Linked DNA regions of Homo sapiens: all the other regions are linked to region 1. Evidence: fine-mapped expression QTL. A gene starts in region 1. Each other region holds a variant in brackets. All regions are shown on one strand. Distances are between the middles of the regions. Region 1 holds the start of CLINT1 (clathrin interactor 1). Region 2 has its middle 22 kb from the start of CLINT1. Region 3 has its middle 75 kb from the start of CLINT1. Region 4 has its middle 63 kb from the start of CLINT1.

Evidence for each region. PIP is the estimated chance that this variant, and not a neighbour inherited with it, causes the effect. A credible set is the group of variants that fine-mapping cannot tell apart.
Region 2: its variant is the best candidate, but not a certain one, in a credible set for the expression of CLINT1 in whole blood (INTERVAL, PIP 0.64).
Region 3: its variant is the best candidate, but not a certain one, in a credible set for the expression of CLINT1 in whole blood (TOPMed, PIP 0.50).
Region 4: its variant is the best candidate, but not a certain one, in a credible set for the expression of CLINT1 in lung (TOPMed, PIP 0.89).

What each region holds. Positions count from the first base shown.
Region 1 is chr5:157,854,345-157,862,518 of GRCh38, forward strand. CLINT1 (clathrin interactor 1) reads right to left here and starts at 4,801. Exons shown (of 12, transcript NM_014666.4): 1 at 4,586-4,801. The coding sequence starts at 4,626. RefSeq lists enhancers at 4,431-5,012, 4,850-5,089.
Region 2 is chr5:157,876,799-157,884,972 of GRCh38, forward strand. No RefSeq gene overlaps it. Among named protein-coding and RNA genes, the nearest start is that of CLINT1, 22 kb to the left of the region's middle. RefSeq lists an enhancer at 4,709-5,354. The variant C/T (reference allele first, on the strand shown) is at 4,413.
Region 3 is chr5:157,929,569-157,937,742 of GRCh38, forward strand. It overlaps the pseudogene RPLP2P2 and the pseudogene LOC124901193. Among named protein-coding and RNA genes, the nearest start is that of CLINT1, 75 kb to the left of the region's middle. The variant C/A (reference allele first, on the strand shown) is at 3,984.
Region 4 is chr5:157,917,802-157,925,975 of GRCh38, forward strand. No RefSeq gene overlaps it. Among named protein-coding and RNA genes, the nearest start is that of CLINT1, 63 kb to the left of the region's middle. RefSeq lists silencers at 244-353, 1,866-2,008. The variant G/C (reference allele first, on the strand shown) is at 3,755.

The sequences.
Region 1 (8,174 bases):
ATGCTGAGGCAGGCAGACTGCCTGAGCCCAGGAGTTCAAGACTAGCCTGGGCAACATAGCAAGAACCCTTCTCCACAAAAAAATTTTTTAAAATTAGCCACGCATGGAGGCGCAGCTGTGGTCCCAGCTGCAGTGTGCATGTTTGCATCACTGTGCTCCAGCCTGGACAACTGAGTGTGACCCTGTCTCAAAAATAAAAAATAAAAAGAAACCAGACTACTAATCCAATAAATAACAAATGTATTGCCTGTTAAAATAAATGAATATACTATTCTTTATAAAAGCAAAAGTTTCTCCCTCTGGAGTCAGGAGACTAGAACAGCAGTTTCTACAGCTCTATTACATTATCTAAACATTTAGGAACTAAAACCAAGCAAATATACATCAATAAAAATCAACTTATGAGGGAAAATGCAAGCTATGCTTAGGAGAATAACTTAAAATGGACTACCCATAGCTGTTGCCTTAGGACCTTAGCCAGAGCTGTTTGAATCACTATCAAAAAAAGGGCCACTGAGGCTGGGCAAGGTGGCTCATGCCTGTAATCCCAGCACTTTGGGAGGCCGAGGTGGGTGGATCACCTGAGGTCACAAGTTTGAGACCAGCCTGGCCAACACAGCAAAACCTCAGCTGTATGAAAAATACAAAAATTAGCCAGGCATGGAGGTAGACGCCTGTAATCCCAGCTACTCGGGAGGCTGAGGCAGGAGAATCATTTGAACCCGGGAGGTAGAGATTGCAGTGGGCTGAAATCACGCCATTGCACTTCAGCCTGGGGGATAAAGTGAACTGTCTCCGAAAAAAAAAAAAGGCGGGGGGGGGGGCGGGTCACTGATGAAAGAGATTTACCACTAATATTACTCCTTGCAAGGAAAGAGAAGGATTCGCTGAGCTTGAACAAATAAGTAGCAGTTTTGATCTACCACTACCATGTCACCTTCATTACATTCCTCAAATCTAGAGAGAAAATAGAACTGCAGCAACTTTCAATTTTACCATGTATAGGATGACAAAATATAAACATGTCCAATTTTATTACAGCCACAAGTAAAGATAGGTCATAGGATGACAATGATTAAGCTAGTGCTCCTAGTTGGTGGGAATGGTGCCACTTATCCTTTCCTGCCACATCGCCTTTTATGCAACTTGACGAGTGGGAAGATACTGGCATTCCAAGCTCTGGCAGGCCTATGGCTTTATCTGCTTCCCTCAGTTCCACAATGTTCTGCAAAACAAATCCCTCTACTGCCACCAGGAGGTGCAGCGATTGTGGAAAATATACCCCCACTTCCAGAAAAAGTCTTCAAGGTCTCAAAAGCCAGTGTTTGAAATACATCATTATCACTTTGAGTAGCTGAGATGGGTGGATCACCTGAGGTCAGGAGTTCAAGACCAGCCTGGCCAACATGGCGAAACCCCGTGTCTACTAAAAATACACAGATTAGCTGGGTGTGGTGGCAGGCACCTGTAATTCCAGCTACTAGGGAGGCTGAGGCAGGAGACTCGCTTGAACCCCAGAAGTGTAAGCTGCAGTGAGCTGAGATCTCGCCACTGCACTTCAGCCCCGGGAACAAGAGCGAAACCCCATCTCAAAAAAAAAAAAGAAATACATCATTACACTTAAGAGCCGCTACCATACTGAATCTAAGAGTGGCTCCAGGAAACACATTTTTCAGAGTACATTTCTTTTTCTGAAGTAAAACCTCACTGGGTATCAATATACACTAAAAGTCCTAGTCTTCCTGAGTCATGGTCTTATTTATTGCATAAAATATTTAAGTATAACATTTATTGATTACCACTTTTTAAGAAAATTTCCCTTTTCAGCCTAAATTGTCTACAGAGGATAATGGCTCCAAAATTTGTCTGCTATTGTAAAAACTAGTTCCAACTATTTTTCCTTGATGGAAATGCATTTCTCCAATAGCCATCAAAGGTGGAAAAAGTCTTACTCTAGCCAGGTCCCCTCATTTTACAGATAAGGAAGGCAAAGTCTGGAGATTCATGTGATTCTGCCTCAAATCATACATACAGCTAATTAAAAACGTAATGCCAGAATATGAACCAGATAGTTAAACCCCTAACCTTTCTCTCATAGAAGCCCTCATTCTATTGATCCATCTATCTGAATAGCCCTTAATCACGTCACTGCTTCTTCATTTGCAAGTTCCTTCATCATTTTATACCTCTGATAATCAGACCAACCATTCTATGGATGCACGTCTATTATGGCATTATAAGGTGCACAGTCTAACAGATCCACGGTTCTGTAAGATGCTTACATTTGGGGGGAAGAATTTCTTCTCTTCTTGCCAGTGAAAAGATGAAAATTAAAATCCCGAGTACTCATCAGTAAATCAACCTCATGTTCTAATCTTAATATGTGTCAGACACCCACAAAAGCCTTAAAAAGTCTTTGGTGACAACATTCTTCTATGTTCTTGAATAATTTGGTTCAAGTCTACATCCTAAATTGGGTAGTAAAAAGATAGATAATATTTTTCAACAATAGCTTTTCCTTTAGATAACTACTTACATGGCAAATTTAACCTAAAGCACGTGAAGATTAGTAACAAGTGTGATAAGCAAATATGAAAGGTACAACAATAGTAGGAATATTGCCTCGATTTCTGTCTTACGAACAATGTACAGCCTCTTCAAATTTTTGAGTACCACAAATTTGGTCCTCTAAGAGAACAAGGTGTTTCTTAATGGTTTTATTCTTCTGACCTCTGACTGAGAAATAAGGAGGCAGTGCCAGGCACGGTGATGCATGCCTGTAGTCCTGGCCACTTGGGAGGCTGAGGTGGGAGGATCACTTGAGCCCAGGAGTTGGAGGGTGCAGTGAGTTATGAACACACAAAAGAATGAGACCCCATCAAAAAAAAAAAAAAAAAAGGTAGCTTTTAGTCTTCTTTTGGCCTTTAAAAAACTATTTAAGTTGATATCCTAATCTTTACACAATATACTAAAAAAATGCCAATGAACCTAGATCTGGAAAAGATCTAGTTTATTTCATCTTCGGTAAGCAAAAGCAAAGAATATATAAATAGCTAAATAGTCCGAAATAAATAGCTGAAGCCTTAATAGCCAAATGAGTTGTTATAAAGGAAAATTATTAAAGCAAATCACTTTTCAAACTTGAAGCTTCTTTCTTAAAGAGGTTTATTTCACTCTAAATGCAAAACATTTGCTAGTTTCAAAAGTACACTAATATAAACATATTCTGTTAAGGGCTTTATATGCAATACAATCCCTTAACCCTTAAGCCTCACAACAACATTCTAAGGTAGGTATCGTTGCATTTTCATTTTGTACCAGAGAAAACTAGGGCACTGTGAGGATAAGTAACTTCCCCAAGGTTATAAAGCTTGAACCCAGCTTTGCAGGTTCTGAAACCTGTGCTCCTTAGGCACTCTATTGCCTTCTTGGTAGCACAGAAAATATAAAAATATGGTCAAGCTCTAAGTTCTATCTGATGTATCAGACAAGGCACTGGAAATTACTTTGTTTCCTGGTGTCAAGAAAACAGTTTGCTATCTATACTTCCTGATTTTAGGTTAGGTGGGTGGCACAAATCAACTGTTTTTCTCACCACACTTATTGCATAATCATTAAAGCCCCAAAGGAAGAGGACTGCTTAAATTCTTAAACTTTATTTCCTGCTGGCCTAGAAGACCTTACTTAACCACTGTTATACCTGATATACTCATTTTAAAAGTTAAGGTTTTCCTTGTGCAAGTAAGAGACTAAAGTTATTTCAGTCTTAAAGGAAATCAACTACGTACTGGTCGTTTTACCTGCTTTTAAAAGCAGATCAACAGGATATAAACCTGGGTTGTTTTTTTCCTTAAGAGGACATTTCTTAATGACCTCTTAATTTAATCGAATGGAACAAGTAGCACACCAAAAATGATGTGTAGTGGAAAAAGAAACAGAAGAAAAAATCGCAAGAAGTCATATAGTGATCTACTTTCACTAGTGTTAGAAAAGCAAAGGATGAGTGTCTTCTTGAGTAACTTCAGGCTGACCACAATAGCCACTTGTTACACTACTACCACCCACTCCAACACTTCAGGTTCATTAGGAATTAAGAGGAGGCAAGGAAGATAAAAGACACACCCCAACCAGGTCTAAGGTCTCTCCGTACTACACCTTGAGGGACACAGGGAACCAGTGCATTGTGCCCCCCACCCCCAAACCTTCCCTGCTCCCCAGGAGGCAAAGCCCACGGCCTGGGGCCAAGACAGTCCTCCGGCCAGGGCAGTGACCCAGCGCCAAACAACCCGCCCCTTATGACCAAAGCGTCGGCACCCAGGGGTTGGAATAGGGGAAGGGACGGGAAGGCCTGGAAAGGAGAGAAGGGTGGCCAAGAGGATGTTTTTTTTTAAAACGAGGGAGGGTCCCTCCCCAGCCTCGCCAGCGGGGATGAGGCCCGGGGCCGGGAAGGAGCGGGCCGCCGCCATGATGGGGCTGGCAGAGCCAGGGGGCGTGACGTGGGCAACCCCTAGCCCAAGGCCAGCTCCTTCTCCCCCTCCCCCCTCCCCCACGTGGGCCTCGGCCACAACTGCCCCCCGATACTCACGCTTTGTCCACCAGCTCGCGCACCTTCCACATGTTCAACATCGTGCCCCGCGCGGGACGGTCCGCCGCCTCCCTCTCCTGCTCCCCACGGACCCCGGAACACTTCCGTACCGGGGCAGTTCCAGGCCGGGGTCACCGCCGCCCGCCGCCTCGAACTCCCCCAGTCAGCTCCTTCCTTTGCCACAGCAGCGGCGCCGCCGGTGACACGTCGAGACGCGGCAGCACAGGCGCTGCGTGGAGCGGAAGTGTCCGACTTTCCGCCGCTGCGCGCGGGGCACGCCGGGACTTGTAGTTTTCCCTGAGTGCCGAGCTCGGCCGGTTGAGTTGGGAGAGCTGAGAGGTTGAGTTGGGAGAGCTGAGAGGAGTTGGGATGGTTTCTCTTAAGCTTTCCCAGTCCCCGGCCCCAGACCTACCGAGCCAGAAATTTTGGAGGTGGGGCCCAGCGATCTGTGCTTTTACAAATCCTCTAGGTGATTCTGATCACGCTCAAGTTTCAGAACCACTGGTGCAGGGTCTAGTCACACTCAAACACTTTTCAAATGTAAGGCAGTATTACTATGTTATTAGTAATGATTATACAGAAGTATGATTGGCATACGCATTCCTCATCGACAGACACATCGCTGTATTTATTTCCCAATGCCCAAGTACACTTAGATCTCTAGGCCTTAGTTTCCACCCCTGTAAAATTGAAGAACTTGTATTCTAAATCCTTTTCCGCTCTAATTCTATGATACAATGTTTTATATTTAGACAACTACCTGAAATCCTTGTTAAATGCTTTACTATAAACCTCAGAAACTCAGTTCACACTCCACGGGAAACTAAAAAGCCAACATTATATATACACGCACACATACACATACATATGACAGGTTTGTGTTTTTTAAGGATAAATATGCACATTGCTTCCATTGCTTTGTTGCAATGGTTGTCATCACTTCCTTCTCTACTTACTCATTTTTATCAATGCTCATGTTAAAGCTACAAGCAACCTTAAGTTTCATTTGATCCATCTGCTGAAATTTTACAGTTCTTTTCATTCTACAAATATTTATTGAGCATCTTGTATGTTCCAGAAGTGGGGAATATAGTTAAAGACCCAGCTCTCTTGGAATTCAAACGTAATTGGAAGAAACATATAATAATCAAGGAAACATTTAAGATAATTGCATATAGTGTAATTGCTTAGCGGGTTCTTTCTGCCCACTTTACAGATAAAGTCAATTCACTGCGACCAAGTCATTGCAGTGAAGAGTTTGACATGAGGCTGGCCATGCCACTTGAGAGACAGAGTTATTACTCAAATCAATCTTCCTGAACATTTGGAAGCTAGAGTTTTTCAAAGATAGTTTGGTGAGCAGAGGGTTAGGGCATGGGTGCTGCTGATTGGTTAGGGATGCAATCAGAGGAGTATGGAAAATGGTTCTCCTTTGCTGAATCGGCTTCTTGATGGAGGGCCAGCAGAGGAGTGGCTGGTCTGGGTGGGGTCATCCGTTTGTCAGAAATGCAAAAGCCTGAAAAGACGTCTTAAAAGGCCAATCTTAGGTTCTACAATAGTTCATTACAGGCCAGGCACAGTGGCTCACGCCTGTTATCCCAGCATTTTGGGAGGCTGGGAGGCCAAGGCAGGAGGATCACTTGAGCCCAGGAGTTTGAGACCAGCCTGGGCAGCAAAGTGAGATCCCCCTGCCAGCCCAGTCTTTAAAAAAAAAAAAAAAAAAAAAAAAAAAGCCAGGCGTTGGGGCACACTCTTGTGAGGCCAGCTACTTAGGAGGTTGAAATGGAAGGATCCCTCGAAAGGATCAAATAAAGACTCCAATTCACAAAGAAGTGAAATTGATGGTTGCTAGTCATGAAGCTAGGTAACAATAATCCCAAATAAACAACCTCGGACCCTGGTCCCTCAAGTGAAACCACCTCTTTTCTATTTTCTTTTTCTTTTTCTTTTTTTTTTTTTTTGAGCTGGAGGTCTCACTCTGTTGCCCCAGCTGATCTGAAACTCCTGGGCTCAAGCAATCCTCCCACCTCAGTCTCTCAAGTAGCTGAGACTACAGGAAACCCTCTCCAAGTTGCATTCACTTAATTACCGAAAGCAGCTTTGAAAAAAGTTTCAGTAAGGCTTTCGGATTGAGGCCCCAAGAGAAAGAAGCAAGGTTGAAGGAATTGACAGGCAGAAAATTACAACAAGCAGAAATCCAAAGTTATCTCAGAGCTTTGTAATGGTAGGAGTACTTGGGCTGATATGAAGTGAGTTGGAGAGGTGGGTGGGGAGAGGCAGGTAAAGATGAGCAGAGATGGGTAGAGGAATAGGGCTTTCAAATAAGAAGTTTGTGTTTTTTTGTTGAAAAGACTATCCAGCTCAAGATCCCAGAGATGGAATGTGGCCAGAGGAGATAAGAAAGAGAAACTACTTTGCATAAATAAGAGCTCAGCAAGTTAACTTTCAAACAAGTGAGTCCAGAGTACACCTGCAGAACGGGCCTGGCCCAGAAACAACCACCTTCCCTCCCCTGGGCCTGTTTGGGTGTTCACAGCAGGGCACTGTCAGCCTCTTTGCTCATTCCAAAACCAAGTTTGCATACGTCTAGACCCATCCTAGAGTTGTCACCTGTGACATTTGCACAGTCAGCTGGAGCCATCTGGAATGTAAAGCCAAAAAATCTGCCTGTCCGCTTCTAATTCAAGAGAGCCTTTAAAGGACTCAGAAAAATCAGACCCGGAGACTTTGTTAAAAAGTGATCTCCAGAGACTATTTGCATTTCAACAAAGTGTTCCATTTTTACCTTTTATCTTGCAAGTTCGAGAGCAGTTTCCATAGTAACTTCTTTGTGGCAATTCAAATATGTTCATGGTAGAAAAATAAATGAGAAAATGCTCCACCCACTCTTCTTCAGGAAAACATATATTTTTTACTAAATGAGCTGACACTTTTAGTAAGGCCAAACCAACACACGTTTTGAAGGAAAAAAAAAAAAAAAAGGCCGGATGTGGTGGCTCACGCCTGTAATCCCAGCACTTTGAGAGGCCAAGGTGGGTGGATCACCGGAGGTCGGGAGTTCGAGACCAGCCTGACCAATATGAAGAAACCCTGTCTCTACTAAAAATACAAAATTAGCTGGGCGTGGTGGCGCATGCCTGTAATCCCAGTTACTCGGGGGGCTGAGGCAGGAGAATCGCTTGAACCCGGGAGGTGGAGGTTGCAGTGAGCTGAGATCGCATACGAAACTCATCTCAAAAAAAATATATATATACATATATACTCAGTTATGTTAATGATGTGTGTTGTGAGAAGCAGTGTAGACAATGGACACTGACTGCTTATTTCATGCGGTCACCTCCCTAGAGTTCCCTTGGGGGAGTTTAATTCATGGTACATGGGTATGGCAGCCATGGAAAAGCACCATTCAGACCTACTTTCAAGAGAACCAGTTGCAAGGAGTGTGGTTGACTGACAGCTTCCTGCTGTCTTCCTCTGGGATCATTTATGCCAACGGCATACTCTCTGTAGGGCTATTCCCAGCAATGACTGAGAAAGGTGTGCTGGAGCCAGGCCATTTCTGCCCAGTGCTGGACTCCTTCACCGGGCA
Region 2 (8,174 bases), 22 kb after region 1:
CCATTCTCCTGCCTCAGCCTCCCCAGTAGCTGGGACTACAGGTACCTGCCACTGCACCCAGCTAATTCTTTGTATTTTTAGTAGAGATGGGGTTTCACCGTGTTAGTCAGGATGGTCTCGATCTCCTGACCTCGTGATCCGCCCGCCTTGGCCTCCCAAAGTGCTGGGATTACAGGCGTGAGCCACCGTGCCCGGCCCATGAATCTTTTTTTTTTTTTTGAGATGGAGTCTCACTCCATCACCCAGGCTGCAGTGCAGTGGTGCAGTCTCGGCTCACTGCAGCCTCTACCTCCTGGGTTCAAGCAATTCTCCTGCCTCAGCCTCCCAAGTAGCTGGGACTACAGACCTCTGCCATTGCGCCCGGTTAAATTTTTTTTTTTTTTTTGGTATTTTTAGTAGAGACAGGGTTTTACCAGGTTGCCCAGCCTGGTCTCAAACTCCTGATCTCAAGTGATCCACCCACCTCGACCTCCCAAAGTGTTGGGATTATAGGCATGAGCCACTGTGCCCTGTCCCATGCAACAGATTTTATTTTATTTCATTAAAAAATTTTTTTTACAGACAGGGCCTAGCTCTGTTACCCAAGCTGGAGTGCAGTGGGGCAATAATAGCTCATTTGCAGCTTCAAAATCCTGGACTCAAGCGATCCTCCCACTTCAACTTCTCAGTACTCCTAGGACTAAAGGCCCACACCAGCACCACAACTGGCTAATTAAAAAAATTTTGTTTTAGAAACAAGGTCTCTAAAAAATATTCTGGCTATGTTGCCTAAGCTGGTCTTGAACTCCTGACCTCAAGCAATCTTTTTGCTTCAGCCTCCAAAGTGCTGGGATTATAGGCACGAGCCACCATGCCCAGCCCATGCAGCCATTGATATACTTTTGGGTTCTACTTTTTGGCTACTATGAATAATGCTGCTCTGAACACTTGTATACAAATTTTTCTGCAGAAATGTTTTCAATCCTCTTGAGTATATACCTATAAATGGAACTGATAGGTCACATGGTAACTCTGTGTTTTTGCTTGTTTGTTTTTTAGAGACAAGCGCTTGCTATGTTGTCCAGGCTGGCCTCAAACTCCTGGGTTCAAGCAATCCTCCTACCTCAGCCTCTGGAGTCTATATTTAAGTTTCTGAGTAGCTGCCAGACTGATTTACAAAGCGGCATTACCATTTTACATTCTTCCCAGCAATGTATGAGGGTTTTAATTTCTCCACATCCTGGTTACAATGTATTATCTACTGTTGCATCATGAGGTTTAAAAAAAAAAAAAGAAAAAGAGAAAAGAGAACTTACTATCATCTGTCTTTTTTATTGTTAGGTATGAAGTAGTATCTCATTTTTTTTTTATTTATGTTTCCCTGTTGGTTAGTGATGTTGAATATCTTTTTATGTGCTTATTTGCCATTTGTACTTTTTTTTTTTTTTGCTCTTGTTACGTAGGCTGGAGTGCAATGGTGTGATCTCAGCTCACTGCAACCTCTGCCTCCCAGGTTCAAGTGATTCTCCTGCCTCAGCCTCCCGAGTAGCTGGGATTACAAGCACCTGCCACCACACCCAGCTAATTTTATATTTTTGGTAGAGACAGGGTTTCTCCATGTTGGTCAGGTTGGTCTTGAACCCCCAACCTCAGGTGATCCACCCGTCTCTGCCTCCCAAAGTACAGTGATTATAGGTGTGAGCCATTGCACCCTCTGCCTTATTTATTTATGAGACAGAGTCCTGCTCTTTTGCCCAGGCTGGAGTGCGGTGATGAGATATTGGCTTGCTGCAACCTCCGCCTCCCGAGTTCAAGCAATTCTTCTGCCTCAGCTTCCCAAGTAGCTGGAACTACAGATGCACACCACCACACCCAGCAAATTTTTGTATTTTTAGTAAAGATGGCATTTCACTATGTTGGTCAGGCTGGTCTCGAACTCCTGAGCTCAAGTAATCTGCCTGCCTTGGCCTCCCAAAGTGCTAGGATTACAGGCATGAGCCACAGCGCCTGGCCCCATCTCTATTTAAATGAATGAATGAATGAATGAATGAATGAATAAAACTATTGCCTAATGTGAGGTCCTGAAGATTTACCCCTACATTTCTTTTTTTTTTTTTGAGACACAGTCTTGCTTTGTCACCCAGGCTGGAGTGCAGTGGTGCAATCTCTGCACACTGCAACCTCCACCTCCCAGGTTTAAGCGATTCTCCTGCCTCAGCCTCCCAAGTAGCTGGGATTACACACATACACCACCACACCTGGCTATTTGTTTATGTGTTTTAGTAGAGACAGGGTTTCACCGTGTTGCCCAGGCTGGTCTTGAACTCCTGAGCTCAGGCAATCCATCTGCCTTGGTCTCTCAAAGTGCTAGTGAGAGGTGACAATGTGTTAGCAGCCCTCGATTGCTCTCAGTGCCTCCTCTGCCTTGGCATCCACTCTGGCCATGCTTGAGGAGCCTTTCAGCCTACCACTGCCCCTCTCTGGGCTGGCTGAGGCCAGAGCCAGCTCCCTCTGCTTGCGGGTAGGTGTGGAGGGAGAGGTGCGGGCATGCTCACGGGCCAGCGCAAGTTCCGGGTGGGCATGGGCTCAGCAGGCCCCGCACTCAGAGCTGCCAGCTGGCCCCAGGCAGTGAGGTCCTTAGCACCCGGGCCAGCAGCTGAGGAGGGGGCACCGGGTCCCCCAGCACTGCCGGCCCACCTGTGCCATGCTCAAATTCTCGCTGGGCCTCAGCTGCCTCCCTGCGGGGCAGGGCTCGGGACCTGCAGCCTGCCATGCCCGAGCCCCCTGAACGGGGGGATCTCACGTGGCCTGAGCCTCCCCAACAGGTGCCACCCCCTGCTCCATGGTGCCCAATCCCATCGACCACCCAAGGGCTGAAGAGTGCAGGCGTGTGGCACAGGACTGGCGGGCAGCTCCACCTGCGGCCTCGGTGTGGGATCCACTAGGCGAAGCCAGCTGGGTCCTGAGTCACGTGGGGTCTTGGAGAACTTTTACATGTAGCTGGAGGATTGTAAATGCACTAATCAGTACTCTGTGTCTAGCTCAAGGTTTGTAAACGCACCAATCAGCACTCTGTGTCTAGCTCAAGGTTTGCAAATGCACCAATCAGCACTCTGTGTCTAGCTAGAGGGTTGTAAATGGACCAATCAGTGCTCTGTGTCTAGCTCAGGGATTGTAAACGCACCAATCAGCACCCTGTCAAAACGGACCAATCAGCTCTCTGTAAAACAGACCAATCCACTCTCTGTAAAACGGACCAATCAGCTCTCTGTAAAATGGACCATTCAGCAGGATGTGGGTGGGGCCAGATAAGGGAATAAAAGCAGGCTGCCCGAGGCAGCAGTGGCAACCCACCCAGGTCCGTTTCCACACTGTGGAAGCTTTGTTCTTTCACTCTTTGCAATAAATCTGGCTGCTGCTCACTCTTTGGGTCCACACTTCTTGTATGAGCTGTAACACTCACTGCGAAGGTCTGCAGCTTCACTCCTGAGGCCAGCGAGACCTCGAACCCACCGGGAGGAATGAACAACTCTGGACAGGAGGAATGAACAACTCTAGATGTGCTGCCTTAAGAGCCGTAACACTCACCAACAGGGTCTGCAGCTTCATTCTTGAAGTCAGTGAGACCAAGAATCCACCAATTCCAGACACATTTTGGCGACCAGATGGGACTATCGCCAAGCGGTGAGACCATTGCCTATGGCTGAGCAGTGAGACTGTCACCTATCGCCAAGCAGTGAGTACCATCGGACCCCTTTCACTTGCTATTCTGTCCTACTTTTCCTTAGAATTCGGGGGCTAAATGCTGGGCACCTGTCGGCCAGTTAAAAGCGACTAGTTTAGCCGCTGGACTAAAGACATGGGTGTCAGGCTTCCTGGGAAAGGGCTTTCTCTAAAAACCCCCGACTCTTCGGCGTTGGGAGTGTTGGTTTGCCTGGAACCAGCTTCTGCTTTTCCTGTACTTCAGGGCTGAGCTGAGGGTTGACAGAGAGGAAAGCCATTCAGCTCTGGGGTCCTGACAACAAGTTGGTTGAGCCTGTGGCCATGAGTGGAACTCTCAAAGGCATGTTGCCCAAGCGAGACTCGCCCATCTATCCTACCTATCCTGATCCTTGCCCTCTGTGTCCTAATGCCTGCCAGACAAACTTCCTCTCGCCTCTCTTCTCCGAGGCTAGTCCTGCTTCTAAAAATCGCTCCCTGTCTCTGGTGCTTTTCTAGTTTCTTCTATAAGAATGATTTCTAGTATAAACTCCAGGACTCTGTTACCTTCTTTAGACACCCGGGCTCACCAATCAGAAAGACAAAATTTTTGGCCAAAGACTCGTTGGGGGTACTATCTGGAATTTTAGGATCCCTCCTCAGACAAGTAGGCCTAACAAAAGCTATTCCTGAAGCTAGGATATGGGGAGCCTCAGAAATTGTATCCTTCCTCA[C/T]TATTCATATAAGTGAGGACAAAAGGCATCACTCTTCCAACTCTGGGTTGGCATCACTCTTCCAACTCTTCCCTCCCTCAGGGCATGGCCCTCCACTTCATTTTATGGGCATAACATCTTTATAGGACATGGGTAAGGTCCCAATACTAACAGTAGAATGCTTAGGACTCTAACAGGTTTTCGAGACTGCATCAGTAAGGTTAGCCACTAAATCCGATTTTTCTTGGTCCTCTTTGTGGTCTAGGAGGACAGGCAAGGGTGCAGGTTTTCAAGAATGCATCAGTAAGGGCCACTAAATCCGACCTTCCTCGGTTCTCCTTGTGGTCTGGGAGGAAGACTAGTGTTTCTGCTGCTGCGTTGGTGAGAGCAATTATTCCAATCAGCAGGGTCCAGGGACCGTTGCGGGTTCTTGGGCAGGGGTTGTTTCTGCTGCTGTCAGTGAGCACAACTATTCTGATCAGCAGGGGCCAGGGACCATTGCAGGTTCTTGGGCAGGGGGAGAAAAAAACAAATCAAAACCGCAGGCAGTTTTTGTCTTTCAGATGGGAAACACTCAGGCATCAACAGGCTCACCCTTGAAATGCATCCTAAGCCATTGGGACCAATTTGACCTGCAAACCCTGAAAAAGAGGCAGCTCATTTTTTTCTGCACTACGGCTTGGCCTCAATATTCTCTCTGATGGGGAAAAATGGCCACCTGAGGGAAGTACAAATTACAATACTATCCTGCAGTTTGACCTTTTCTGTAAGAGGAAAGGCAAATGGAGTCAAATACCTTATGTCCAAGCCTCCTTTTCATTGAGGGAGAATACACAACTACGCAAAGCTTGCAATTTACATCCCACAGGAGGACCTCTCAGCTTACCCCCATATCCTAGCCTTCCTATAGCTCCCCTTCCTATTAATGATAATCCTCCTCTAATCTCTCCTGCCCAGAAAGAAATAAGCAAAGAAATCTCCAAAGGACCACAAGAATCCTCAGGCTATTTGTTATGTCCCCTTCAAGCTGTCGGGGGAGGGGAATTTGGCCCAACCCGGGTACATGTCCCCTTCTCCCTCTCTGATTTAAAGAAGATCAAGGCAGACCTGGGGAAGTTTTCAGATGATCCTGATAGGTACATAGATGTCCTACAGGGTCTAGGGCAAACCTTCGACCTTGCTTGGAGAGATGTCATGCTACTGTTAGATCAAACCCTGGCCTTTAATGAAAAGAATGCGGCTTTAGCTGTAGCCCAAGAGTTTGGAGATACCTGGTATCTTAGTTAAGTAAATGATAGAATGACAGCTGAAGAAAGGGATAAATTCCCTTCCGGTCAGCAAGCCATCCCCAGTATGGATCCCCACTGAGACCTTGATGCAGACCACGGGGACTGGAGTTGTAAACATCTGTTGACCTGTGTTCTAGAAGGACTAAGGAGAATTAGGAAAAAGCCCATGAATTATTCAATGATGTCCACCATAACTCAGGGAAAGGAAGAAAATCCTTCTGCCTTCCTTGAGTGGCTATGAGAGGTCTTAAGGAAATATACTCCCGAGTCACCTGAATCACTCGAGGGTCAATTGATTCTAAAAGATAAGTTTATTACCCAATCAGTCACAGATATCAGGAGAAAGCTCCAAAAGCAAGCCCTGGGCCCTGAACAAAATTTGGAGGCATTATTAAACCTGGCAACCCCGGTATTCTATAATAGGGACCAAGAGGAACAGGCCCAAAAGGAAAAGCAAGATCAGAGAAAGGCCACAGCCTTAGTCATGGCCCTCAGATAATCAAACCTTGGTGGTTCACAGAGGACAGAAAATGGAGCAGGCCAATCACCCTGTAGGGCTTGTTACCAGTGTGGTTTGCAAGGACACTTAAAAAAAGATTGTCCAATGAGAAACAAGCCGCCCCCTCATCCATGTCCACTATGCCAAGGCAATCACTGGAAGGTACACTGCCCCAGAGGACAAAGGTTCTCTGGGTCAGAAGCCCCCAACCAGATGATCCAACAACAGGATTGAGGGTGCCTGGGGCAAGCGCCAGCTCATGTCATCACCCTCAATGAGCCCAGCTACGTTTAACCATTAAGGGCCAGGAAATTGACTTCCTCCTTGACACTGGTGCGGCCTTCTCAGTGTTAACTGCCTGTCCTGGATGGCTGTCCTCAAGGTCCATTACCATCTGAGGAATCCTGGGACAGCCTGTAACCAGGTATTTCTCCCACCTCCTCAGTTGTAATTGGGAGACTTTGCTCTTTTCACATGCCTTACTTGTTATGCTTGAAAGTCCCAAACCCTTATTAGGGAGGGATATATTAGCCAAGGCTGGAGCTATTATCTACATGAATATGGAGAACAAGTTATTCATTTGTTGTCCCCTGTTTGAAGAGGGAATCAACCCTGAAGTCTGGGCATTGGAAGGACAATTTGGAAGGGCAAAAAATGCTGCCCAGTCCAAATCAGGCTAAAAGATCCCACCACTTTTCCTTATCAAAGTCAATATCCCTTAAGACCTGAAGCTCATAAAGGATTACAGGATATTGTTAAACATTTAAAAACTCAAGGCTTAGTAAGGAAATGCAGCAGTCCCTGCAACATCCCAATTCTAGGAGTACAAAAACCAAACAGTCAGTGGAGACTAGTGCAAGATCTTAGACTCATCAGTGAGGCAGTAATTCCTCTATATCCAGTTGTACCCAACCCTTATACCCTGCTCTCTCAAATACCAGAGGAAGCAGAATGGTTCATGGTTCTGGGACTCAAGGATGCCTTCTTCTGTATTCCTCTGCACTCTGACTCCCAGTTTCTCTTTGCCTTAGAGGATCCCACAGAAAACACATCCCAACTTACATGGATGGTCTTGCCCCAAGTGTTTAGGGATAGCCCTCACCTGTTTGGTCAGGCACTGGCCCAATATCTAGGCCAATTCTCAAGTCCAGGCACTGGCCCAAGATCTAGGCCACTTCTCAAGTCCAGGCACTCTGGTCCTTCAGTATGTGGATGATTTACTTTTGGCTACCAGTTTGGAAGCCTCATGCCAGCAGGCTACTCTAGATCTCTTGAACTTTCTCGCTAATCAAGGGTACAAGGTGTCTAGGTCAAAGGCCCAGCTTTGCCTACAGCAGGTCAAATATCTAGGCCTAATCTTAGCCAGAGGGATCAGGGCCCTCAGCAAGGAATGAACACAGCCTAAACTGGCTTGTCCTTTCCCTAAGACATTAACACAGTTGTGGGGGTTCCCTGGAATCACTGGCTTTTGCTGACTATGGATCCCTGGATACAGCCAGATAGCCAGGCACCTCTATACTCTAATCAAGGAAACCCAGAGGGCAAATACTCATCTAGTAGAATGGGAACCAGGGGAAAAAACAGCCTTCAAAACCTTAAAGCAGGTCCTAGTACTAGCTCCAGATTTAAGCCTTCCCACAGGAGAAAACTTCTCTTTGTACGTCACAGAGAGAGCAGGGATAGCTCTTGGAGTCCTTACTCAGACTCGGGGGACAACCCCACAACCAGTGGCATATCTAAGTAAGGAAAGTGATGTAGTAGCAAAAGGCTGGCCTCACTATGGGTAGTTGCAGTGGTGGCTGTCTTAGTGTCAGAGGCTATCAAGATAGTACAAGGAAAGAAACTCACTGTCTGGACTACTCATGATGTAAATGGCATACTAGGTGCCAAAGGACGTTCATGGCGATCAGACAACCACCTACTTAGATACCAGGTGCTACTCCTTGAGGAACCAGTGCTTCAGATATGTATGTGTGTGGCCCTCAACCCTGCCAC
Region 3 (8,174 bases), 75 kb after region 1:
CACTTGAGCCCAGGAGTTTGAGACCAACCTGGGCAACATGGCGAAACACCCTCTCTACAAAAAAATACAAAAAATTAGCCGGGCGTAGTGGCGGGCGCCTGTAGTCCCAGCTACTTGGGAGGCTGAGGCAGGAGAATGGCGTGAACCCGGGAGGCGGAGCTTGCAGTGAGCCGAGATCCCGCCACTGCACTCCAGCCTGGGCGACAGAGCGAGACTCCGTCTCAAAAAAAAAAAAAAAAAAAAAATACAAAAATTAGGTGGACATGGTGGTGCATGCCTGTATTCCCAGCTGCTCAGGAGGCTGAGGCGGGCAGATCAGTTGAGCCCAGGAGGTTGAGGCTGCAGTGAGCCATGATTGCCCCACTGCATTATTCCAGCCTGGGTGACAGAAGGAGACCCTGTCTCGGCAAAACAAAAAAACAAAACAAAAAAAATTCTCTCAGTTCTGAAGGCTGGGAAGTCTAATAGCAATGAGGTTCTTCTTGTGGCATCATTCCATGGCATGTGGCAGAAGAGCAAGAGAGGGAGGGAGAGGGGAAGAAGGGGGAGGAAGGGAGGGAGATGATAGGGAGAGAGACATGGGGGGAAGGGGCTAAACTCATCCTTTTATCAGGAAACCACTCCCACAATATCAGCATTAATTCATTAATGAGGGGCTCTCATGATCTAATTACCTCTAAGTTCCCACCTGTCAACACTGCTGCACTAGGCATTTAGTTTCCAAAACATGAGCTTTGAGGGACACATTCAAACCATAGCAGCAATTCAAAATGATGCCTCTTGGGTGGGAATGGTGGCTCACGCCTGTAATCCTAGCACTTTGGGTGGCCAAGGCAGGCAGATGGCTTGAGGTCAAGAGTTTGAGACCAGCCTGGCCAACACTGGTGAAACCCCGTCTCTACAAAAAAATGCAAAAATTAGCTGGGCATGGTGGTGCATGCCTATAATCGCAGCTACTTGGGAGGCTGAGGCATGAGAATCACTTGAACCTGGGAGGCAGAGGTTGCAGTGAGCTGAGAGTGCCTCACTGCACTCTGGCTTGGGTGACAAAAACAAAAAACAACAACAAAAAAACACCTCTCTAAGCAGAATCCTTTCATGAATAGTAGAGGAGCCAATGAGATAGGCCTTGAAGCTTGCTTCCAAGGTCTCCATGGATCCTTTGAAAGTCAAGCCCATAAGTTACCATAGTATTCTTTTTGCCATTTAATAAATGCTTTTTGAACAAGATTGTGTTAACCACGTGCTGCATGACATGAAAGAGGAAAAGGCACAGTTTATGCCTGTGAAGAAGAAGCAGGTTGTACTTCCATAGAGAGACGCTTGCCAATAACAGCTGGCATGGTCCCAGGGCCTAGTCAGGGTGCAGATGATAAGCAAAAAAAGAAATAGGTAGCACGGGCAGGGCAGCTGTCCAGGAAGCCTTTTTTCTTTTTTTTTTTGAGACGGAGTCTCCCTCCGTCTCCCAGGCTGGAGTGCAATGGCGTGATCTCGGCTCACTGCAACCTCTACCTCCCAGGTTCAAACAATTCTCCCCACTCAGCCTCCTGAGTAGCTGGGATTACAGGTGCCCACTATATGCTGGGCTAATTTTTTTTTTTTTAACTTGAGAGATGTGTAAAAGGCTTTATTTGGAGGGGAGCAGGAGTTTAACCAAAGAGGCCAAATCCCATGTCATCGTTTTACTCTTCAGACTCCTCTTTCTCATCTTTCTTCTCCTCTGCTGCAGCAGGGGGTGGAACCAGCTGCAGGGGCTGCAGAGCCTGGGGCAGCAGAGACGGCCACAGCCCCACCAGCAGGTACATTGGCAAGCTTGCTAATACTCTTGGCAATGACGTCTTCAATGTTTTTTCCATTCAGCTCACTAATAACCTTGTTGAGCCGGTCATTGTCCGTCTCGATGCCCACGCTGTCCAGGATCTTCTTGATGTCCTTGTTGCTGGGGGAGGGGTTACCCCCGAGGGCAGCCAGCAATTAGGAGGCGATGTACCGCATTGGGGCGGTGGTGGAGAGGCCTCACGTGTGTGACCTCGGCGGCGTCAGGGAGGAAAAACAATATTTGTATTTTTAGTAGAAACGGGGTTTCACTGTGTTGGCTAGGCTGGTCTCGAACTCCTGACCTCAGGTGATCTTCCCACCTTGGCCTCCCAAAGTGCTGGGATTACAGGTGTGAGCCACCATGCCAGGCCCAAGAAGCCTTTATTTTATTTTTATTATTATTTTTTCTGAGATGGAGCTTCACTCTGTTGCCCTGGCTGGAGTGCAATGGAGCAAACTCGGCTCACTGCAACCTCTGCCTTCCCGGGTTCAAGCGATTCTCCTGCCTCAGCCTCCCGAGTAGCTGGGATTACAGGCACTTGCCACCACACCCGGCTAACTTTTGTATTTTTAGTAGAGATGGAGTTTCACCATGTTGCCCAGACTGGTCTCGAACCCCTGACCTTGTGATCCACCTGCCTCGGCCTCCCAAAGTGCTGGGATTACAGGTGTGAGCCACCGCGCCCGGCAGGAAGCCTTTTTAGAGGAGGCAAGATGGAAGAGTTTAGGGTGGGAGTAAATAAAGCTGGCTGGAGACATGCCATGTGCCTCTGAGAACTAGCAATTTGGTGCTCAGTAGGTTAATAATGTGGTGATACTCTAAATTGATAGTCCTTAGATACTTGTCAATGTTAGTTTAGAGGAGAAGTGGTGCATGCATGGAGAAGGATGGAGGAGGAGGCTCGCTTTTGTCAATCTTTAGTTTCTCTTTTATTATTCCCAATTATTTATTTAATTTTTTAAGAGACAGAGTCTCATTCTGTCACCCAGGCTAGAGTGCATTGGAGCGATCACAGCTTGAGCTATGATTACTGTAAACTCAAGCTCCTGGGATCAAGCAGTCCTCAGCTTCCCAAGTAGCTATGACTACTGGCATGTGCCACTATTTCCAGCTAATTTTTAAAATTTTTTGTAGAGATGGTGTCTCACGATGTTTCTGAGGCTGGTCTCAAACTCCTGGCCTCAAGCGATCCTCCCACCTCAGCCTCTCAAAGTGTTGGGATTACAGGTGTGAGCCACTGCTTCTGGCCCCCAATAATGTATTATTGTTCCACTCACCAAAGAAAAAGTTCATCAGACTAGCTGCTTAGTGACTCTGTGTTGGTACTGGGCCTGCTCCTTGAGGCAACTCTTCTTCCTCACTCCTTCTGCAACAACTTTATTCCATATTTTATTCAATTCCATACAGAGCTTTCCCTGAGACAAGTTCTCCACTTCCTCATGTTTGTCATGTGTTTCAGGGCCCCTTACAGATTGGTACCCCCATCAATTGCCCAACAAGGCCCTTCCTAATCCAGCTTTAACCCTATTAGGATGTTATTGACATATACATTGTGACTAAAATGTTTCTATGTATAATTTACTCTTTGTAAGGGACCTTACCACATATTCTATGAGGGGCCACCTCTGGGGGTGGCGGAAGAGGCAGGACATAGTCATGCCCTGGAAGGAGCGTTAGAGTGGGCAGCAGGAGGCTGGTTTTGAGCTGCGGCTTTACAACTAACTTGCTGCATGATCCCGTGTTAAGTCACAGTCTCAACCTGGCCCTTCATTTCTTCCTCTAACTATGAAATATTGGGCTAGAACCAGGGTGGCAAAACAGGTTTTGTCTTATGTGCTAATCCCAAACTGTTGGTAACAGCTTACTCTACTGATTCATAGAGAAAACCTTTTAGGCCACATCTGGGCTCTGGAAGAAAGAGTGATCAATTAGCAGTTTCTACAATGAGTAAAGAAATGGGGTAGTGATGGTGGTGATAGCATGAGTGCCTTATTTTTCGATTCCCTTGGTTGAATACGTGCTAAGAAATTCCATTCAGAATTCTGTAAACATGATGTGAATATCGGTTAAACATTCCCGGAGAGTTTCTCTACTTAAAATTAGAATTCTGTAGACTTCACTAAATGATACCTAGGTTATTTAGAGCAGGAAAATAGCTATAATT[C/A]TTTGCTTCATGAGAATGGCTTTGCTTCTGGCCAGCCTCATTAGGATCTACACATTTGCAGTTTTTCTACATGTGGGGAATTCTTACACTGATAGATTCACACTATCACTAAGTCCTTCTTGTGACCAATAGCACACATTAAACATTTTGATTATAAAATGATATGACCAAAAATAAAGCACAAGGAAACAAAAAGCTGAACACTGTAAACCACATTAAAATGAAAAGTTAAAAGAAAAACCGTAGGCTGGATGAAAATATTTGCAAATATTTACCTAAAAAGTACTTAAAAGATAAAGTACTCCTAAAATCAACAAGAAACATACAAACACTGGCCAGGCACGGTGGCTCACACCTGTAATCCCAGCACTTTGGGAGGCTGAGGCGGGTGAATCACCTGAGGTCGGGAGTTCAAGACCACCCTGACCAACATGGAGAAATCCCATCTCTACTAAAAATACAAAATTAGCCAGGCATGGTGGCACGTGCCTGTAATCCCAGCTACTCAGGAGGCTGAGGCAGGAGAATCGCTTGAACCCGAGAAGTGGAGGTTGCGGTGAGCTGAGATGGTGCCACCGCACTCCAGCCTGGACAACAAGAGCAAGACTCCATCTCAGAAAAAAGAAAAGAAAAGAAAAGAAACGAAACATAGAAACAGCTCTGTAGAAAGAGAGCAAAGAATATGAATAGGCAACTCAAAAAAGAAAAAATGTAAGCCCCATTAGATAGGAAAAATATGAAAGATTAAATCTTTTTAATAAAGAAATGTAAAATGAAGCAAGATAGTATTTCTCTGTATCATATTGTATCAAATTTCTTTTTCTTCTCCTCCTCCTCCCCCTCCTTCATATACTGGCAAATATTTTTCAATGTCGACATAGAAGTAAGGCAGAAAAGGGCATAAATTAGTGCAGCCATTTTTGGGGAAAACTTGGAATCATCTATAAACACTTTAAGTGCATATCCTTTGACCCAGTGTAACCATCTGATGGGTTCTTCCTGCCTGCTGCACAAATAAAGACCATGGCATTGCAGTAAAGAAAGAATTTTATTGATGGGAGGCTGGCCACACCATATGGGAGATGGAGTTATTACTCAAATCAATCTTCCCGAAAACTCCAGGATTGGGGTTTTTAAGGAGAATTTGGTGGGTAAGGGGTCAGAAATTGGGGAGTGCTGATTGGCCGGGTTGGAGATGAAATCATAGGGAGTCAAAGCTGACCTCTTTTGCTGAGTCAGTTCCTAGGTAGGGGCCACAAGACTGGATGAGGCAGTTTATCTATGTGGGTGGTGCCAGCTGATCCACTGAGTGCAGAATAGGCAAAATATCTCAAGCACTGATATTAAGCTTTACAAAAGTGATATTATCCCTGGGAGCGATTTGGGGAGGTTCAGAATCTTGCAACCTTCAGCTGAATGACTCCTAAGCCATAATTTCTAATCTTGTAGCTAATTGTTAGTTATGTGAAGGGTGTCTATTCCTCAGGCAAGAAGCGGTTTGTTTTGGGAAAGAGTTTTATTGTCTTGTTTTAGAGTTAAACTATAAAGTAATTTCCTCTCAAAGTTAGTTCACCCTATGCCCAGGAATGAGCAAAGATAGCTTGGAGGTTAGAAGCAAGATAGATTCAGTTAGGTCAGGTCCCTTTCACCGTGATAATTTTCTCAGTTATAATTTTTGCAAGGGCAGTTTCACTAGCACCTTATGTTTAAATTTTTATCTTAAAAATATTAGTGAAAGTGTGTAAAGATATATATACACACACACACACAAACAACAATCTCTGTCAGATATTTATTGCAATAATTTTATTTTATTTATTAATTATTATTATTTTTTTTGAGATGGAGTCTTGCTCTGTCACCTAGGCTGGAGTGCAGTGGCATGGTCTCAGCTCACTGCAACCTCTGCCTCCTGGGTTCAAGCGATTCTCCTGCCTCAGCCTCCTGTGTAGCTAGGATTACAGGTGCGCGCCACCACGCCTGGCTAATTTTTGTATTTTTAGTAGAGACGGGGTTTCTCCATGTTGGTCAGGCTCGTCTCAAACTCCTGACCTCGTTATCCACCCACTTTGGCCTCCCAAAGTGCTGGGATTACAAGCATGAGCCACCGTGCCTGGCTATTTTTATTATTATTATTTTTTAAGAGAGGGTCTCGCTCTGTTGCCCAGGATGGAATGCAGTGGCATGAATAAGGCTGACTACAGCCTTGACCTCCTGGGCTCAAGGGATCCTCCTGCCTCAGCCTCCCCTGTAGCTGGGACCACAGGTGTGCACCTCCACATCTGGCTAATTTTTCTGTTCTTTGTAGAAACAGGGTCTCACTTTGTTGCCCGGGTTGGTCTCAAATTCCTGGGCTCAAGTGATCCTCTTGCTTCAACCTCCCAAAGTGTTGGGACTACAGGTGTGAGCCACTGTACCTGACCATGGCCCTTTTAAACATTTTAATGTTTAACTTTTTGTTATAAAGAGCAAATATAAAAGTATATTTGAGAAAAAATAAAAATATTTTAAGAAATAATATATATCACAATTTCAGAAAACACTATTAGGGCAAACAGAAACATGTAATAGCTGTACTTTTATAAATCAAATAATTTTTTTGTTGTTGTTTTGAGATGATGTCCTGCTCTGTCACGCAGGCTGGAGTGCAGTGGTACAATCTCGGCTCAGTGCAGCCTTCACCTCCTAGGTTTAAGCGATTCTCCTGCCTCAGCTTCCTGAGTAGCTGGGATTATAGGTGTGTGCCACCACACCCGGCTAATTTTTGTGTTTTTAGTAGAGATGGGGTTTCACCATGTTACCCAGGTTGGTCTTGAACTCCTGACCTCAAGTGATCCACCTGCTTTGTCCTCCCAAAGTGCTGGGATTACAGGTGTAAGCCACCACGCCCGGCCTAAATATAACTTTTTAAATGTTTCATTTATTTAAACTGCAGTGAGCCGAGATCGTGCCATTGCACTCCCGTCTGGGAGTGCAATGACTCTGGTATTGTCAGTCTTTTTAATTGTAGCCATTCTAAGGATCGTTTAATGGTATCTCATTGTGGTTAAATTTGTGCTTCCTTAATTATTATTATTATTTTTAAATTTTGTTTTATTTTCAGTTCTGGGATACATGTGCAGGACGTACAGGTTTGTTAACATAGGTAAATGTGTGCCATGGTGGTTTGCTGCACCTATCGACCCATCACCTAGATGTTAAGCCCCACATGCATTAGCTATTTTTCCTGATGCTGTCCCTCCCCCTTGCCTCAAAAGGCCCCAGTGTGTGTTGTTTCTCTGCCTGTGTCCATGTGTTTTCATTGTTCAGCTCCCACTTATAAGTGAGAACATACAGTGTTAGGCTTTCTGTTCCTGTGTTAATTTGCTGAGGATAATGGCTTCCAGCTCCATCCATGTCCCTGCAAAGGACATGAGCTCGTTCTTTTTTATGGCTGCATAGTATTCCATGGTGTATATATACCACATTTTCTTTGTCCAGTCTATCACTGATGGGCATTTGGGTTGATTCCATGTTCTTTAATTATTAATAATGATGAGGCCAGGCAAGGTGACTCATGCCTGTAATCCCAGCATTTTGGGAAGCTGAGGTGGGTGGATCACTTGAGGTCAGGAGTTCTAGACCACCTTGGCCAACATGGTGAAACCCCATCTCTACTAAAAAAATACAAAAAATTAGCCAGGTGTGGTGGCGTGTGCTGGTAGTCCCAGCTATTTGGGAGGCGGAGGCTTGAGAATTGCCTGAACCTGAGAGGCTGCAGTGAGATAAGATCATCCTACTGCATTCCAGGCAGGGTGACAGAGTGTGAGTCTGTCTCAAAAAAAAAAAAAAAGAGCATCTTTTTGTGTGCTTGTTATCTGTATATCTGTTTTGGTAAAATATCTGTTCAAATATTTTGCTTGCTTTATAATTGTTTTCTTTTTAAAATTTTTATATTTTTAGACAAATTCTAAAAGAGCTGTAACACTGTTTGTTTTCTTATTATTGAGTTATAAGTGTCCTTTATATATTCTAATTAAAATGCTTTGTCAGATACCTATTTGCTGACATCGTCTCCCAGACTGGGTCTTGCCTTTTCATTTTCTTAACAGTGTTTTTTGTAGAGCAATATGTTTTAAATTTTGTTGAAATCCAATTTATTGAATTTATGGGTCTTTTTTTTTTTTGAGGTGGAGTCTCACTCTGTTGCCC
Region 4 (8,174 bases), 63 kb after region 1:
TGCAGCCACCCAACAGGTTAATTTGCCACTGGCCAGATACAGACAATTTATCAAGACAGGAATTGCAATATAGAAAGACTTTAATTCACACAGAGCCGGTTGAATGGGAGACCAGAGTTTTATTATTACTCAAATCAGTCTCCCTGACAATTCAGAGACTGAGGATTTTAAAGGATAATTTTGTGGGTAGGGAGCCAGGGAGTGGGGAGTGCTGATTGGTTGGGTGGGAGACAAAAATCATAGGAAGTCAAGGCTGTCCTCTTGTGCTGAGTCAGTTTTTGAGTAGAGGCCACAAGACCAGATGAGTCGGTTTACTGGTCTGGGTGGCGCCCTCTGCTGCATCAAAATGCAGGGTCTGAAAAGTACCTAGAGCACTGATCTTAGGTTTTACAATAGTGCTGTTATCCCTGGGAGCAATTAGGGAGGTTTGGAATGTTGTGGCCTGTGGCTGCATAATTCCTAAACCATAATTTCTAATCTTGTGGCTAATTTGTTAGTCCTACAAAGGCAGTCTGGTCCCCAGGCAAGAAGGGGGTTTGTTTCAGAAAAGGGGTGTTATCTTTGTTTCAGAGTTACACTATGAACTAAGTTCCTCCCAAAGTTAGTTTGGCCTATGCCCAGGAATGAACAAGGATAGCTTGGAGATTAGAGGCAAGATGGAGTCAGTTAGGTCAGATCTCTGTGACTGTCATAATATTCTCACCGTTACAATTTTCACAAAGGTGTTTTCAATGTTCTCTCATAGCATCTTGCCTTCGTCTCTTCTTTCCACTTGTTATGCTGTATTGTAATTTCCTGTCCACTCATCTTGTCAGCAGCAGCAAATCCATACCTCAGAAGATAAAATTTGACCGAAGGGCACAAGGCAGAGGGAGAAACCGAGGGAAGTTTTAGAGCAGGAGTGAAAGCTTATTAAAAAATTTTAGAGCAGGAACAAAAGAAAGTGAAGTACATGTGGAAGAGGGCCAAGCGAGCGACTTAAGAGATTCAAGTCCATGGTTTGACTTTTGACTTGGGGTTTTATATACTGGCATGCTTCTGGGTTCTCGTGTCTCTTCTCTGATTCTTCCCCGGGGGTAGGCTGTCTGCATACACAGTGGCCTGCCAGCACTTGGGAGGGGCCACATGCTCAGCGTGTTTACTGAAGTTGTGCACTGCCTCACTTGAGGCATTCTTCCTAACTAGTTGAGTGTTCCCAGAGGAAGGTCATATACCAGTTAAACTCCACCCTTTTGCCTCTTAGTGCACATATTTGAGCCCACTCGCCCAACTCCTGAGATCTTATCAGGGGAAGTGGCTGATCACCAGCTTCAGGTGTTTTCTATGTATTGCGAGACTGCTTTTCCCTGCCACCAGCTGCAGCTAATTACTACGTTAGAGAAACAGTTTAACAACTGCCTCACCATCATCTGATGGTGGTGGTTGATGGGCTGGGCGCTCTCCTGCCCTGCTCATATCTGCCTGACTGCCTACTCTAACAACCTGACTTCCTTTTCTCCCTTAACTTCCTGAAGGAAAGGGTGTGTCTTGTTTAAAGTAACATTGCCTGAGCGTAGCAGAGTGTCTAGTGTATAGTAGGTGTAGCAGGACAAGCCGCAGACAAAACTCCTCAGACACCGAGTTAAAGAAGGAAGGGGTTTATTCAGCCGGGGGCATCGGCAAGACTCCTGTCTCAAGAGCTGAGCCCCCCAAGTGAGCAATTCCTGTCCCTTTTAAAGGCTCACAACTCTAAGGGGGTGCGTGTGAGAGGGTCATGATTGATTGAGCAAGCAGTGGGTACGTGACTGCGGGCTGCATGCACCGGTAATTAGATCAGAACAAAACAGGATAGGGATTTTCACAGTGCATTTCTATACAATGTCTGTAATCTATAGATAACATAACTGATTAGATCAGGGGTCGATCTTTAACTACCAGGCCCAGGGTGCGGCACCGGGCTGTCTGCCTGTGGATTTCATTTCTGCCTTTTAGTTTTTACTTCTTCTTTCTTTGGAGGCAGAAATTGGGCATAAGATGATATGAGGGGTGGTCTCCTCCCTTATAGGAACTCACTATAACTTTGTCAATGATCAAATTATTCTACTTCCTTAGGTTTCAGTTTCCTCACCTATAAAATGTAAGGGATAAAGAGAATCGAGATGCCAGTAGGTTTGTATTGTATGCTGACTTTGATCCATTGGTTCTGACTGTCCACAGCTCCATACTGAGAAGGATTATGTGACTGTGACTGCAGTTATAGGGAAGGAGTGTCACGATTAATTAGCTGTAACTGCTACGGTCAGGAAATAAGAAGTGACAGCAAACTGCCAAATATCTGCCAATCTAGAGGAAGATGATTTATCTGGCTCCTGCGAACATCAATCTTGCTCAATCCAGCCATGTCTGCATTATATATTGTGCCAATGAAGAGAAAAACCAAATGTGAAACTGACTAGCTGCCAAAGTTAATGTCATTTGCTGTGGGAGAGACCAGGTGCTTGCCAATCCATTTTCTTTTCACCAATCCACTTTCAGCACACAGCTGGATTATGTTTTTCCAGCCCCTTTGCATTAAGTTTGGACCACAGAGTAGCTACCCACAATGTAATGTAAGCTGCAATGATGATGTAACAGCTCAATGGGTTCTTCTTGCCTGCTGCCCAGATGGAGCTGATTTATCAAAGCAGGGAAATTGCAATGGACAAAGAGTTTAATTCATGCAGAGCTGGCTGAACAGGAGACCAAGGTTTTATTATTATTCTAATCAATCTCCTCCAATGTTTGGAAGTTAGGGGTTTTCCTTTTCTTTTTTCTTTTTTTTTTTTTTTGAGACGGAGTTTTGCTCAGTTGCCCAGGCTGGAGTGCAGTGGCGCAATCTCGTCTCACTGCAAACTCCGCCTCCCAGGTTCAAGTGATTCTCCCGCCTCAGCCACCCGACTAGCTGGTATTACAAGCACTGGACATCATGCCCGGCTAATTTTTGTATTTTTAGTAGAGACGGGGTTTCAGCATGTTGGCCAGGCTGGTCTTCAACTCCTTACCTCAGGTGATCCACCCGCCTCGGCCTCCCAAAATGCTGGGATTACAGGTGTGAGGCACCACTCTCTGCCAGGTTAGAGGTTTTTCAAAGATGGTTTGGGGAAAGGGGTGGAGGTGGATAGACAACTGGGGCTTGCTGCTGATTGGTTGGGGATTCAATCATTGGGGTGTGGAAAATTGTCCTCCTGTGTGCTGAGTTGCTTCTGGGTGGGGCCACAGGAGTGGTTGGCAGGTCCAGATGGAGCCATCGATGTCAGACTTGTAAAAAACTGGAAAATACATTTGTTTAGTTTTTTTTTTCCTTGTTTTGAGATGGAGTCTGACACCCAGGTTGGAGTGCAATGGTGTGGTCTCAGCTCACTGCAACCTCTGCCTCCTGTCTCAGCCTCCCGAGTGGCTGGGATTACAGAAGTATGCCACCACACCCAGCTAATTTTTGTAGTTTTAGTAGAGAGGGGGATCCACCATGTTGGCCAGGCTGAGTCTCAAACTCTAGACCTCGTGATCCGCCTGCCTCGGCCTCCCAAAGTGCTGGGATTACAGGAGTAAGCCACTGCACCCGGCCCGGAAAAGACATCTCAAAAAGTCAATCTTACATTCTACGATAGTGATGTTATTTGCAGGAGTAATTGGGGAAGTCACATATCTTTTCACTTCTGGAATAACAGCAGCAACAATTTACACCTCAGCAGAATTCAAGCTCCTCTATCCTCCTAGCCTGGTAGTCTCTCATTAG[G/C]TTTATAAAGGCAGTTGAGTTTTGGGGAAGGGTGATTATCATTTAAACTATAAATGAAATGTCTCCCAAAGTCAGCTTGGCTTAAGTCCAGGAATAATTAAGGGCAGCTTGAAGGCTAAAGGCAAGAGGGGGCTTGGCTAAATGACAGCCCCCCACCAATGCGATAATTCTCTCACTGGTATAATTTTTATGCAGGTGGTTTCAATGTTGAGTCACATCTGGTCAAGTACAGGAGAGCCTTCTTTATGCTCCTTCTTTCTCCCTTATTGGCTGGTTCCATATAGAGAATCCGCTGGAAGGATACAAGCACCTGAGTGATGGCATCCCACTTGGACTTCGATGAAATGAGAAGTGTGGGAGCCATAGGTTCTTGGCCCTCTAAAGGTTTGGTAAAAATCACTGATATGAGGTGGATTGGTTAATAGGAGAAGAGGCATACAAATGTATGTAATGTGTATACACAGGAGCCTTCAGAATGAAGACCCAAGTTTGCAATGATTTACAGAAATATATATACCATTTTGAGATTACAGAAATAATAAGGGCTTAGGTTCTGATAAAAAAGTTTATAGGAGGGGGAGTAGAGGCTTGGCTAGCAAAGGTGGCCTTGTTATGTAAATGAAGCCTCCCTCAGAGAGAATAGATGTGAAAGATTTCTTTTTAGACTTTTAAAGATGTCAGACTCTCAATCTCTTCTGTGTCTGGCGAAAGGGATAGGAAGGGGAGGACAGGCTGCATTCTTGTAGACTCCATACAGATTGAAAATGTCCCCACTTAAGACAGCTTTTCAAGGCCACTTCTGTCAGGATGGCCAAGCCACAGCCATTTCAAAATATGTCATAGAAATATAATTGGGCGGCTGGGCGCGGTGGCTCACGCCTGTAATCCCAGCACTTTGGGAGGCCGAGGCAGGTGGATCACTGCAGGTCAGGAATTCTAGACGAGCCTGGCCAACATGGTGAAACCCCGTTTCTACTAAAAATACAAAAATTAGCTGGGCGTGGTGGCAGGTGCCTGTAATCCCAGCTATTCCGGGGAGCCGAGGCAGGAGAATCGCTTGAATCCAGGAGGCAGAAGTTGCAGTGAGCCGAAATCGCACCATTGCACTCCAGCCTGGGGGACAAGAGCGAGACTTCATCTCAAAAGAAAAAAAAGAAATATAATTAGGCATAAAATATTTTTTCTTATATATACATATTTTCATAGAGACGGGGGTCTCATTATGTTGCCCAGTCTGGTCTTGAACTCCGGGCTCAAGTGATCCTCCTACCTCAGCCTCCCAAAGTGCTGGGATTACAGGCAGGAGCCATCATGTCCAGATGGGGTAAAATATTTTAATTTCCTTCAGAGGTACTTTTATCTCTCAAGCCACTGAGATTTTGGGAGTCAAGGAGGGTTGTTATCCTAATATATCTGCCTGTCTTATTTTCTTTTTATTTTTAGGTGTGGAAGCATTGGGGAGGAATAAGCCAAATGTTAATGGCATTCGTGGAAGTCAATAAAAATTATGTTTGATAATTCAAGGCTTCAGCTAACATAAAGTAATGACTTAAGAACTGGAGAAACTTTAGGCCGGGTGCGGTGGCTCATGCCTGTAGTCCCAGCACTTTGGGAGGCCGAGGTGGGCTGATCACCTGAGGTCAGGAGTTTGAGACCAGCCTGGCCAACATGGCGAAACCCCATCTCCACTAAAAGTACAAACATTAGCTAGGCGTGGTGGCGGATGTCTGTAATCCCAGCTACTCAGGAGGCTGAGGCAGCAGAATCGCTTGAACCTGGGAGGTGGAGGTTGCATTGAGCCGAGATCATGCCACTACACTCTAGCCTGGGCAACAAGAGCAAGACTCCATCTCAATATATATACACACACACACACACACACATATATATCTATACACACACGCATATATATATATGCACACATATATACACACACACATATATATACACACACACATATATACACACACACACACATATATATATCTATACACACACATGCATATATATATACGCACACATATATATACACACACACACACACATACCTGAACTGGAAAAATTTTAAAAGCTTGTGTTGTTCTGTTCTATCTGCATTTACTATTGTTCTTCCTACCCTTGGTTCTTTTTCCATATAAGGTGACCCACCACAGGGGCATGACAAAAACCTCACATGTAGTATTCCCTACCCCTTTCCCTAGATATCGATTACCCCACAGTCCCTGCAGATGAAAAAAGTTTATGGCTCTTTAAGCCCAAGAAGCTAATGATTTTTCCCTTCAAACTTCCTGCCTTCTACAATTTGGCTGCAAAAGATTTCAAGCTCATGACAGAAACAGAAAACATAGGTTTAAAATATTCACGCCTCTCTGTCTGCAGCAACCATGAATATGCATATCCAGCCAGACAGCTGCTGCCTTCTGGTTCTGGAAGGCAGGGCCTGGGCAACGCGAAGGGAAAGTGGGAGAAGTTGACCTTCCCTGGCTCTGCCCTACAACCTTGGACATCTTACTTTCTAAGCTCCTAGCTGTTGAGCCCTCATTCTTCCCCACTAGTTATGGTTGGAGAGCTGCTTGATTTTCATGAAGTAAAATGTTTTCTCCCTGTGGTCCCATCAAAACTTCCCCATCCCAAAGCCCAGTTCCTTCACCTGGCTCCCTTTTCAATGCACCGGTCTCACCAATTTTGGGGAATTGATGGCTTACTGGTTCCCTAGTAAGTGAAGTGGCTTTCTTTGCTGCCCATGTGATAAATGAACATCTCTATAGTAGCTTATGGGGGACAATGTCGCTTGAACTGGAGGTTTCACACTGGGCATTTTAGGCCAGTGAGGAAAAAAGAAAGGCTCTGCAGCAGACCAGTGGGGGAGATCCTTGGAAGTACATGTTCTTCTTGCCCTCCTCAAATCATCCTTTGAAGGTAGCAGTGTGATGTGCCAGTACCCAGGGCCGGTCCAGTGTGTCTGCTGACCAAAGCCACAGAGACAGTGGGAGTTTGATGTAATGGGAGGCAGGATTTAAATGTTGTGTGCCAGGGTGCATGTGGGAGGGCATTCTGAGCCAAGGTCAATGGGATGGTATAGATTTCTGGTTAAAACAGGGCAGCAAAAGGACACTGAAACTGGGTGGAGATAGAGGTTTTAGAATGCAACCAAGGGCAAATAAGAGAATAAGGCAATTTGAAGTTTGTTTTTTCATTGTTTCCTTTTCTTTTTGTTCTTTTGTATTTATTTTTTGTGGGTGTCATAGAGTAGGCCTGAGGGCTTGAATTCACCCACGACTTTGAGAAGAGAAACCCACACCACTACTGCTATTAAAGTATCATATTTATTGAGCCCTTACCATGTCCCAGTGGCTCATTTATTGCTTCTTGCAACTCTGCACTAAATATCACGATCCCACGTTCATAGATGAGGAAACTGGGGTTAAAAAATAACTTTGAGAGGATACAAAGCTAGTAAAGTGGCAGAGACTAGAGCCTTGTTCTCAACCACCACACCTTATTGTTATAAGAACTCCAGAGACTTAAGGGGGGCAGAGAGCTTTGTAGGGCTTGGACTACCTGTTATCAGCCCCACCTTTTTCAGGAAAGGTTAGAGAAAGGCCAAAAGGGTGGGGAAGCCAGTGCAGAGCTGTTCTGTCAGGAGCTGGTCCTGCCAGCAAGAATTTCACCAGCATCTTGAGCTGGCAACATTCTCTCAGGGCAAGGCTTTGCAACCAGTATCCTTGGGCCACTTTGACAAAGCAGGCTACCAGTTCACATAATATGAAGCCTCCTCAGTGCCAGAGAATGAGGAATATCAAGGTGAAAGTTATTGGAAAGGGGTCCAGATTCAGACCCCAAGAGAGGGTTCTTGGACTTGGCACAAGAAAGAATTTGGGGCAAGTTCATAGAGTAAAGTGAAAGCAAGTTTATTAAGAAAGTAAGGGCTGGGTGTCGTGACTCATGCCTGTAATCCCAGCCCTTTGGGAGGCCAAGGCGGGTGAATCACGAGGTCAGGAGTTCGAGACCAGCCTGACCAATGTGGTGAAACCCTGTCTCTACTTAAAAAACACAAAAATTAGTTGGGTGAGTTGGTGCACGCCTGTAGTCCCAGCTACTCAGGAGGCTGAGGCAGAAGAATCGCTTGAATCCAGGAGCCAGAGGTTGCAGTGAGCTGAGATTGCAACACTGCACTCCAGCCTGGGCAACAGAGTGAGACTCCATCTCAAAAAAAAGAAAGAAAGTAAAGGAATAAAAGAATGGCTACTCCATAGGCAGAGCAGCCCCAAGGGCTGCTGTTTGCCCATTTTTATGGTTATTTCTTGATTATATGCCAAACAAGGGGTGGATTATTCATGAATTTTCCTGGAAAAGGGTGGGCAATTCTTGGAACTGAGGGTTCCTCCCCTTTTTAGACCACATAGGGTAACTTCTTGAT